Linked DNA regions of Homo sapiens. The protein of the gene in region 2 purifies or fractionates together with the protein of the main gene of each other region. This does not show direct contact. Each region holds a gene or a part of one and is shown on either strand. Other genes may lie near its edges. The genes, in order: ARMC9, DSG1 and VRK3.

Region 1 (3,654 bases), on a different chromosome or scaffold from region 2:
TGAGCTCTTTATAATGTGAATAAAGGGAGTTTTCAAATTATGAATATATGATACTCCAAAACTTTGTTCATTTGTTCATTCGTTCTTCCATCCATTTGGCAGACATTTATGATAAGCCAGGATGTGTTACTGAGGACCATTCATATAATAATACTGTTGAAACTTATGTCTGAAATTAACATCTTCCATATCCATTCAGAAGTCCACAACAGGCTAGGGACCATTCTGGGCTTATTACAGGGTCCCAGGTGTGGCTTCCTGCTTCTTCTCCAGGCCTTGTACAGAGAGTGTGTATGGAAGCATTCCTTGGCTGCCTCTGTTGTGAAGACTTAAGGGCTCATAACACACACATTACCCCTCATTTCTCTTTGTAGATCTGACTGTTGGGTTCAGGATTTCATGGAAAAAAAAGGACAATGCTCCCCACAAGAACACAGCAATGAATTATGTTTAGCTCACAAGAAGAGTGGTTTTTCTAGTCACCAGATATTTCATTGAATAAAACCAACGTTTAACGTTTAGAAGAAATATCTTTTAATAAGTTTTAATAAGTTTTGTGGGGGTTTTGTGTGTGTGTGTGTGTTTGGTTTTTTTTTTTTTTTTTTTTTTTGAGAGAGTCTCACTTTGTCAACCAGACTGGAGTACAGTGGCATGATCTCGGCTCACTGTAGCCTCAACCACCTGGGCTCAAGGAATACTCCTCGCGCCTCAGCCCCCCAATTAGCGGGATCAACAGGTGTGCATCATCATACCTGGCTAATGTTCCTTAGTTTTTATAGAGATGAGGTTACGCCCTGTTGCCCAGGCTGGTCTCCAACGCCTCGGCTCAAACAGTCTACCTGCCTCAGCCTCCCAAAGTGCTAGGGTTACAGGCGTGAGCCACCTTGCACAACCAGTAAGTGTTTGTTTGTTTGTTTGTTTGTTTGTTTGTTTTGAGATGGAGTCTCGCTCCGTCATTCAGGCTAGAGTGTGGTGGCACGATCTCAGGCTCACTGCAACCTGCCTCCTGGGGTCTAGCAATTCTCCTGCCTCAGCCTCCCGAGTAGCTGGGATTACAGGCATCTGCCACCACACCCAGCTAATTTTTGTATTTTTAATAGAGACGGGGTTTCACCATGTTGGCCAGGCTGGTCTCAAACTCCTGGCCTCAGGTGATCTGCCTGCCTTGGCTTCCCAAACTGCTAGGATTACAGGCGTGAGCCACCGCGCCCTGCCCAGTAAGTTTTTTAGAACATAAAATTACCCAAACTCTACTGTGTTATATGCAAAGTAAGTTTTCGTGGAAAGTGGTTTTGTAGCATACCAGATAAATTATTTCTGTCTTTCACCTGTTTCATCTCTGGTGTATTATCAGGTCGCCTCTACCTTGCCCAGAACACAAAGGTGCTGCAGATGCTGGAGGGAAGGCTGAAGGAGGAGGACAAGGATATCATCACCAGGGAGAATGTTCTTGGGGCCCTGCAGAAGTTCAGTCTCAGGTAACGACTGTGCAATAGGTCACGGTGTCTCCTGTGAGATCAGATTGAGTTAAAATTCCCATGGCAACCCAGGAGGCAGATGGTATTTTTCCACTACACTTTGGAGAGGTTGGATGACTTTCTAAGACAGAGCTAGAAAGCTTATCTGTAATCCACTAAACTATCCTGCGCAAGGCTGCTGGGGATGGAGGAAGACATTTTCAAAGCATCATTGGATTTTCCTAATGGACATTATCGAGTGCCAGCCATGCAGGATTGTGTCTCAGGGCATGTGCAGGGCTTAGAGACAGACACATGAATCAGACCTGATAGAGCCTCAGCCCTCAAGTTACTTCCAGTCCCCTGTGGGAGCTGCACACATGAATGCACATCCCAGCAGAGTGTCAAGGGCAGTTCTGTGGAAGTCAGGGTTAGGGCCTCCTGACCTTGTCCATGATCCCAGCAGCCCACCCCATGGGATCAGCCTAGACCGTCATGACTTGGAACCAATGGGGCCAGGCTAATTTCTGTATTTCTAGTAGAGACAGGATTTTACCATGTTGGCCAGTCTGGTCTCGAACTCCTGACCTCAGGTGATCCGCCCACCTCAGCCCCCCAAAGTGCTGGAATTACAGGCGTGAGTCACCGCACCCGGCCCCGTAGGTTCCTTTTTAGTTTACAGTTTTGTTGAGATGTATTTACACACCATAATATTCCCCCATATTAAGCATACAATTGAAGGATTTTTAGTGTATTTACAGAGTTGTGCAGTCATCACCACAATCCAGGTTTAGCACATTTCCATCACCACAAAAAGAAACCTCATACCCATTTACAGTCACTCCTCATTCCTACCCCCAGTCCCCGGTAGCCACAAATCTGCTTTCTGTCGATTGACTTGTACTGGACGTTTCATATAAATGGAATCATGTAGTGTGCACTCTTTTGTGACTGGCTTCTCTCACTTAGCATCGCGTTTGCAAGGTTTGTCCATGTAGCAGCATGTGTCAGGGCCTCATTCCTTTTGTGGCTGAATATGTACTCCATTATGGCTACATCATATTGTTTGTTTGTTTTTGAGATGGAGTCTCACTCTGTCACCCAGACTGGAGTGCAGTGGCGCAATCTTGGCTCACTGCAACCTCCGCCTCCCGGGTTCAACCAATTCTCCTGCCTCAAACTCCTGGGTAGCTGGGATTACAGGCGCACACCACCACACCCGGCTAATTTTTGTATTTTTAGTAGAGATGGGGTTTCACCATGCTGGTGAGTCTGGTCTCGAACTCCTAACCTTGTGATCCACCCGCCTCGGCCTCCCAAAGTGCTGGGATTACAGGTGTGAGCCACCGCGCCCGGCCTACACCACATTTTGTTTGTCCTTCAGTTGATTGGCATTTGAGTTGTTTGCATTTTTGGCCAATATGCATAATGCTGCCATGAATGCTTCAGCACAAGTCTTCGTGTGGACATATGTTTCTTTTTCTCGTGGATCGGCATCTAGGAGAGGAACTGTTGGGACATATGGTAATTTTTTCAGAGTTTTTATTCTCTCATGATCACCTCAAGTTCTCTTTGACTTTCTTGAGAACTCTAGTCCCTGGAGTCTTCAACTTTTTTCTGTCGGTCCTCTTCTGAACACACTTTCTTCCCATCAAATGTGGTTTACATTTGACTGACTCACAAATAACCAGAAGCCTACAAAGTGAAATGGTCTAAGCATGTGTGTTTTTAGTGGGGGAAGGGATAGGTATTTGTATCTACCATTTGCCAGCTCCCTGCCAATGAAAATTCTTTGTTCTAACTATATGAATCGAAAAGAACTGTAAGTGCTGCAGAGTCATTACTTCCTCAGAGCATACAAACACTTCATTTCTTTTTGTTTATAGAGAGAACTTTGCTCCATGTTGATCGCTTTGGGGAAGTTTTTAGAAATTCAATAACTATAGTTAAGTAACAGATACAAGATATGGTGAAAAAAATACTTCCTCCTGGTAATGCAAATGTTTACTGCCTGTTTATCTTTTCCTCTAAGTGTTAATTTAAGCTTTTTTGTTCTGTAAATGTGCTTAACCTTTTTGCAGTTTTCCAGAGTCTCTGCAATAAATGAAGAAGGTAGCTAGTTACCAAGAGAGCGCAGTCTTCACTGTATTCTAATAAGCCACCCTGATTGGGTCAGTGTAGTGTTTAAGAACAGGAT
Region 2 (3,741 bases):
AACCTTAATGTGGGGCCTCAGTTAAATCTCCTGTGGAGTCAAGGATTCTTCTGATTCTAGTGTGTGTTTAGTGATAGATGTAGTCTTGACGAATATTGCTTACTGGTGAGGTTGAGGAATATCACACTCGTCTTTCCCTTTACCACTGTGGTTTTGACTTAAGAAAGCAAAACTCACTAAGTTTACTTCTCGAATTGAAGCAAGTGAGGCCTGACATGGTTGTCATCACTAGTGGCAAATGACCTTCCAAGTAAGCAGATGGGAACTGAATTGTGTTTTCAGGTTTTGTTTTTAGTAGGTGATATTCATTCGTATCCAGCTCTTTATTACATAGCTCTGAAGTTAAAATGATTTACATAGGCCGAGCTGTGGACAAAAAAAAAAGAAGCAGCAGCTTGTAGTATGCTTAAGCTTTGGGGAATTTTTTTTTAAGGGGATCTAAAAAAATGTTTTTAGAACATGTAAAATGTTTAATGGTGAAAGTTGGAAAAGAATTCTTCTGTAAAGTAATACCATGCTAATTATTCGCTTTTAGTAAGTAAAGTAGTGGTTGCTTTAGCAAACCTCTGCTGCCATTTTGCAGGAATCAACCAGGAACCTTTAGCAGAATTGACAATATGGTGTTGATAAGCATGAAATAATAATAGAAACCTATTCTGCTAGTTTATCTCACCCTCTAATTTTTCTCACTAGCATAAATTTTAAATTCCTGATTTGATTTGTCAATAAGATCTTGGCTTATATATGCTGATTTATAGGTAGTGTCCAAATTATATAGTATAACATATTTTTCTAGTTTCAAAATTTAGTAATGTCCTATTTATGATATATCATTTCTGTGTGTTTGCTATGTAGTATTACCCAATTAAAAATCTCTAAAAAGAATTAAAGCATTCTAAGAAAAAGGTAAATTTACTATTGCATGGTACAGAAATTTTTTCTTTCTTAAATACAATGTTACTATAAGCTCACTAAAATGAAACTCTATATGACAAAATAAAATTAGAAAAAAATTTGCCCTGGAGTTGTGAATTATATACAACTTTTAAAGAATTTACCCCAATTACTCAAATTTCCCAGGAAATTACAAAGCCAAAGAATATTCAACTTCCTCCACTGGTCAAAAGAGGATAGGAGTGAATTACTGAACCTAGAGCTATTTTGCTCTGTAACAACAGATAAGGCTAATATTTTAAAAGCCACAGTATACATCTTCTTTTAACTCTGTAGAATATGTAAAATTTTGATAGTCTGTAGTATGCTAAATGCAGAAGTATAAATAAAGTCATTCAAAGGGAGTCTTTTCTTTTTCTGACACTTAGGGGGCCACATTAAGGATGGGTAATCTTTCCAGGAATAAAGTCAAAAGGTATTTATTAAGACATACTTGAGTATGCCTGGGTCCAGGAGTTTTAAGGAATAGAAATAAGTATTAATGAATTAATTAAGTAATTTATTAAAGGGAATGGTAGCTGACCACAGGAAACTTGCTTACTGTTTTGATATGAAATATCATCACAAGCTTTTCTTAAGACATCTGATATCTTCCAGAGATATTTTTTAGGTTGTCTTGCAAACAACAAAATCACTGTCTTTAATAACTGTTGCTGTCAAAATCCATTGGTTGTTAAGATCCCCCCAATTTAGTTACATCTGAACTCCTAAACACTGTTAAACGATGGGAAAAACAAGAAAAAACATGGCCATTTGAGTCATTGAGTCATCTATCTTTCTAGGAAGATACTTTCTAACCAAACTTTTCTTCCAGGATTGCAAATTGATGGGAAAAACAAGAAAAACTGAAGTATTAGTCACCTATCTTTCTGGGAAGATACTTTCCAACTAATTTTTTCTTCCAGGATTGCACACTGATTTTCCATTTAGTCCTAAATTTTAAAATTCCCTTTTCAAGACATCAACGATTTTAGTAGTTATTTAAAGGCATGTCATTTTTCAATGAAGAAGTTTTGGGCAGAACTTCATTCTTCTTCTTAGATGTTTACTCTAGATCATATACATCATGTCATAGACCAAGAAGAGATATGGAAATTATTTTATAAGTGAATACTATAATTAGGATTCAAGCTGAGTTTCAGATCAACTTGCTCTTAACAAAAGGAAAAAGAAATAGTAATTTAATACTATGTATGTATGGTTTGAAAACAAACCACAATGTTTATAAAATATCTATCTGACTGTCTAAAGAGGTAATCTTTAGGAGCAAAAATCAGTGTATTATAAATACTTTACCATTTAATATCAACCAAAATACCATCTCAAGCTAATTTTGACACTGAATTACAGATATATCTGCTACATATTATTTACTTCTAAGCATGTTGTCTGATGTAATTGCATTTGCACTGAAAAATTAAAAGAAAAAGTACATATTTAGGGTTATTTATATATCTTCATCTAGACATCTGTTCTACATTTGTGTATAAAGTTTTTAGCATCATAATTTTTATTCAAGAAAATGTTCTGACAAAATTTTAATTATATGTCTTCAAAAATTACATTTTTTACTCTAGTAAGTAGATGTTTTTAGTTATCTGGCAATTTATTTCTGAATTTATACCAATGTTTGATTGTCATGGTACAAAATATATGACACCCTTTAACTTTTGCTGGAGTTGAAAGGCATTATAATCTTTAGCATAAATGGCCATGACTATTTTGGAAAGACATTTAAGACCCAAAGCAAACTTTTAAAAGTATTTGCCACATTTTCCCATGCCTATTTCATAAATTCCAACTTTTTTTTTTACAATTTCTGGATTTTTAAGACCCATTTCACATTGCACTAGGATACAGCAGTCCACAGTAGAGTGCTACTCTCCTTGAAATCAAATCTGTCTTCCACTTCCGGATTATTCAATTTATGTTAGGACAAATCTTGACTAGATCAACCTGTTTTCCATCAGATAATTTTAAAACAATGTGTAATCTTGTTTGTCTACATTCTCTCCCCAGTTTAGCTGTATTTGAATTACTAAATGCTTTATCGTCAAACTGTACCTAGTCTAACTTATTTTTCTTTTGCTGTCGTTTTACAAGCATTTTAAAATTCTAATATTCATCTCTGGTGGTGTTTAACACAAGGTTCTCTTATTCAAGTTTCAATATAAAAGTTTTTGGATTATTTGGGTGCTAGTTTCTTGCTTGGTTATCTGTTCGTTTTTTTAAGTTGATTTGTAATTTCCAAAGAGTTATGCATACAGCAATAAAATTATTAATATGCCTCCCTTATCTTTTCTGAATTGTAAGCAAGGGGGAGGTTTTAGACTGTAAAACCAAAGTTATCAAATCTAGTTATTATCATCCTGTATTGGAGGAGATACAATTCTTTTATTTTCACAATGTTAAAATATGTTTTCATTCTCCATTTCCTAGCTATCTTTTTTTAATGTGTACTGAGGAACCTACTCTCTGGACCACTAATTATAGATGCTAGAGCCCAGCCTTGACCAGGTGGTTAGCCCCACAAATGAACAGATGATAAAAAGCTGCATTTTTAGTTCTTATTTAATACTTGTAGCATCTTTATACTTTTACCTTTCTTTCTTTCATACTCTGCATTTTTATTTTTGCCTACACCAGCATTTTATTTCTTTTAAAATGACTTTTCTTCTTTTTTGCCCTTTAAATCATACCCTTTCATCTTTACTGGGATGCATCTCCTTTTGTTCTCCAATGCCACTTCCAGACTATTATCAACTTCATCTTGCACAAAATCTTACC
Region 3 (3,654 bases), on a different chromosome or scaffold from region 2:
CAAAATAAAAAATAATAACCTATCCAGGTGTAGTGGCATACACATGTGGTTCCAGCTACTCAGGAGGCTGAGGTAGAAGGATCACCTGAGCCCAGGAGATGGAGACTGCAGTGAGCCATGATCATACCACTGCACTCCAACCTGCGTGACCCAGTGAGACCCTGTCTCAAAACTTAAAAAAAAAAAATTATTTTTTTAATGAACACCACAAACTGTAAACAGAAAAACAGGGAGCCGGGGAAGTGTATATAGGTCTTACATAGACAAAACCAACAGTTGTCCACTATCCATATGGTGGAATAAGATGCAGCCATTGAAAAGAAGACATGGACTGGGCACAGTGGCCAAGGCAGGAGGATCACTTGAACCCAGGGGTTCAAGACCAGCCTGGGCAACAGGGCAAAACCCCATCTTTACAAAAAATCGGCTGGGCATGGTGGTGCATGCCTGTAGTCCCAGCTACTCGGGAGGCTGAGGTGGGAGGATCACTGGAGCCTAGGAGGCTGCAGTGAGCCGTGATCGCGCCACTGCACTCCAGCCTGGGTGACAGAGTGAAACCCCATCTCAAAATAAATAAGTAGATATTTTTGAAAGAAGATTTGGTTAACTTTATGTATCAGGCAGAAAGCATTTAACTTTTGTTTTAAACTCAGTTAAGCCTTATAAGAACCCTTTGAGGTGGGGACTATTATTATCATCATTTTACAAATGGAGAAATCATAGCAGAGAGAACTGGTATAGCTTGCCCAAGGTTGTACCGCCACCAGCGGGCTGAGTTGGCATTTGAACCCAGGCCATCTGGCCCCAGAGTTAATGCCCAGAACCACTATTAAAGTGTAAAGTGCCGGTGCCCAACAGGAGGTCTGGTGTGAGGCCTCTGTGGAAAACAAGAGCCCCCTCCCCATCCACATATGTTTACCTGGTTATTTAAAAAAAAAAAAAAATTTTGGAATGATGCATACGAAACTGTTACTAGTGGTTATTTCTGGGCGATGGGTTTTAGGGGCTGGGAGGAAATATGGATGGCTGGTTTGGGTTCTTTTTACTTCACATCATTTTTACTATGAGCATGCCTTAGTTTTGTAAGTGAAAAATGCCATCTTTGGTAGAATGTTTGTTGTCACTTGCACCCACGATGGAAATCTCTGACTTCTACGCTCCTAACCTCCAATCTGTATGGCTTTTCCCTGTGTCCACAGGTGACTTTGGCAGGCTATGGCTTCGCCTTCCGCTATTGCCCAAGTGGCAAACACGTGGCCTACGTGGAAGGCAGCAGGAGCCCTCACGAGGGGGACCTTGAGTTCATTAGCATGGACCTGCACAAGGGATGCGGTACGAGGCCAGGGATGGGTTTGGGACCGCAGAGAGATGCTTCTTATACAAGGGCAGCTCTAGGAGTTCACAGCCAGAGACAGCAGGTGGCCAGACAGGAGAGGCACTAAGGGCGCCAGGACAGGGATTGGAACCACAGACAGCGTCCCGACCGCAAGGGAGGTGGGTGGGGTAGCGGTTCAGCACTAAGCATAGTGGGAGGCTGGGCACTGGGGAGCCTGAGTTCCAGAGGTTGGGGTTCAGGATCTGTTGTAGACTTGGAAGATGGGAGTTGCCTAGGAGTCATCCAGGAGGGGCTGTTGAGGAGGTGGTTGGCCACCACATCTGGAGTGTGGGAGGGAGATCTGGGCAGAGGCTCTGCAGTATCTCAGAAGTTATCAGCCGAAGCCCTGGGAGAGGATGGGATCATCCAGGGAAAGTGTACAGACTAGGAAGAGGGCCCAGGGCAGATTTCTTGAGCCCCTCTTTCTCACATCCCTTTATATCATGGCCGTCCACATGCCTGCCACATCCTCCCATCAGACTGAGCTCCCCCAGTACAGGGATGGCACCCCTGCCTCCAGCATCGGGTGGTGGAAGGCCAGCACGGACAAGTAGTGCTTGTCGAGTGCTTACACAAAGCGTTGTCTAAATTAAGCGTTGTCTTATGCTCAGGAAGCATAAGAAAAATAAACTGTCAGAGTCTCCCCCGCCCTCCCCCACTGAGGCTGGGTTTGGTACCCATCCTTCTGGGCTCCCGTGTGTTCTGTGTCCTTTGTCACTCAGGTAGTCGCACGCTATAGCTGTCTCCCCACTAGGCTGTCACGGGCTGGGACCCGACGAGATCCTGGTCTGGGTTTTCAGAAGTGAGCTGGGCCTGGCACACGGGTGCTGAGGCTTGATTGAATGAGTGCATGAATGAAAGAGGAGTGGATGAGGGTGACCTGGTAAAAGGGGCTGAGAGAATGGTTGAGTGAGAGAGAGAATGAGTCAGCTTCTGCCTACTCATGAAAGTGAATGAGCGGAGGAGACAGCCCATATGGCTGGAAGGCTGGGTGTATGAGTGTGTGGTTGAGTCAGTGAGAGAGAGGGGAAGGAAGGGGGGTGGACCCACCAGTGAGTGGAGCGTCCAGACTTGAGCTGCCACCTTTACTCCTCCTTCCCCAGGGCCCTCCCGCCGCAGCGACCTCCAGAGCCTGGGCTACTGCATGCTGAAGTGGCTCTACGGGTTTCTGCCATGGACAAATTGCCTTCCCAACACTGAGGACATCATGAAGCAAAAACAGAAGTGAGTCTAGGGGTCAGCAGAACCCCTGCAGGTGGTCAGCAGAACCCCTGCAGGTGGACAGAAGCCCAGAGCCCAACTGGGAGCAGGAGGGAAGGGGAGGTGGCATCCAGCAGAGCCCAAGTCCTCTGAGCCGCACAGGCATGTGCTGCAGTGTCCACACAGCAGGCGAGGCAGGTGTTCCGGAGCCACACTGCCTGGGCTCAGACTCTGGCACCACCACTGTGGGGTGTTAACGTCTGCGAGCCTCAGTGTCCTGCTCCATGAGATGGTCTCCTACTAGCTACTACCTTATGGGACTGCAAAGAGTTCAGGGAAGTCAGGTGCACACAGCACTTAGCACAGGGGCTGGCTCAGAGAAAATGCTCATTGTGGCCGGGCGCGGTGGCTCACGCCTGTAATCCCAGCACTTTGGGAGGCAGAGGCGGGCGGATCACGAGGTCAGGAGATCGAGACCATCCTGACTAACACAGTGAAACCCCGTCTCTACTAAAAATACAAAAAATTAGCCAGGCATGGTGGCGGGCGCCTGTAGTCCCAGCTACTTGGGAGGCTGAGGCAGGAGAATGGCGTGAACCTGGGAGTGGGAGCTTGCAGTGAGCCAAGATTGCACCACTGCACTCCAGCCTGGGCGACAGAGCGAGACTCCGTCTCAAAAAAAAAAAAAAAAAAAAGCTCATTGTGTGTGGGAAACTATGACTCATTCATCACAAACATGCAGGCAATCTGAGCAGGATAGGCCCAGGCCCTGCCTCAGCACTGGTAGCACCACCTATGCAGTGTCCACACTGCCAGATCAGTGCCTTCACCTCTGTGTAAACCACCAGGTCTTACCAGTGCTGGTTTAAACATTCAGCACCAAAGCCGGTGGACAGCGGAACATATGAGGAAGTTCTGGGGTGAGATTGAACACTAAGGGCATTGAGCAGCTGGACACAGAGGGAGCACTAGGGGTATGGGTTCAGCACTAGGGACAGCAGGCAGCTGGGCACAAAAGGGAGGCACTAAGGTGTGTGTTCAGCACCAAGAACAGCAGGCAGCGGGACACAAAAGGGAAG

The links.
Region 1: the proteins of DSG1 (region 2) and ARMC9 purify together in Homo sapiens (co-immunoprecipitation; one large-scale study listed by IntAct). This does not show direct contact.
Region 3: the proteins of DSG1 (region 2) and VRK3 purify together in Homo sapiens (co-immunoprecipitation; one large-scale study listed by IntAct). This does not show direct contact.

Annotation. Positions count from the first base shown.
Region 1 is NC_000002.12:231,271,601-231,275,254, forward strand, and holds part of ARMC9 (lisH domain-containing protein ARMC9), read left to right. Parts: intron 1-1,354; coding exon 1,355-1,478; intron 1,479-3,654. UniProt on the Homo sapiens protein: Involved in ciliogenesis. It is required for appropriate acetylation and polyglutamylation of ciliary microtubules, and regulation of cilium length. Acts as a positive regulator of hedgehog (Hh)signaling.
Region 2 is NC_000018.10:31,356,006-31,359,746, forward strand, and holds the end of DSG1 (desmoglein-1 preproprotein), read left to right. Parts: 3' UTR 1-3,241; downstream 3,242-3,741. UniProt on the Homo sapiens protein: Component of intercellular desmosome junctions. Involved in the interaction of plaque proteins and intermediate filaments mediating cell-cell adhesion.
Region 3 is NC_000019.10:49,987,317-49,990,970, reverse strand, and holds part of VRK3 (serine/threonine-protein kinase VRK3), read left to right. Parts: intron 1-1,199; coding exon 1,200-1,332; intron 1,333-2,478; coding exon 2,479-2,599; intron 2,600-3,654. UniProt on the Homo sapiens protein: Plays a role in the regulation of the cell cycle by phosphorylating the nuclear envelope protein barrier-to-autointegration factor/BAF that is required for disassembly and reassembly, respectively, of the nuclear envelope during mitosis.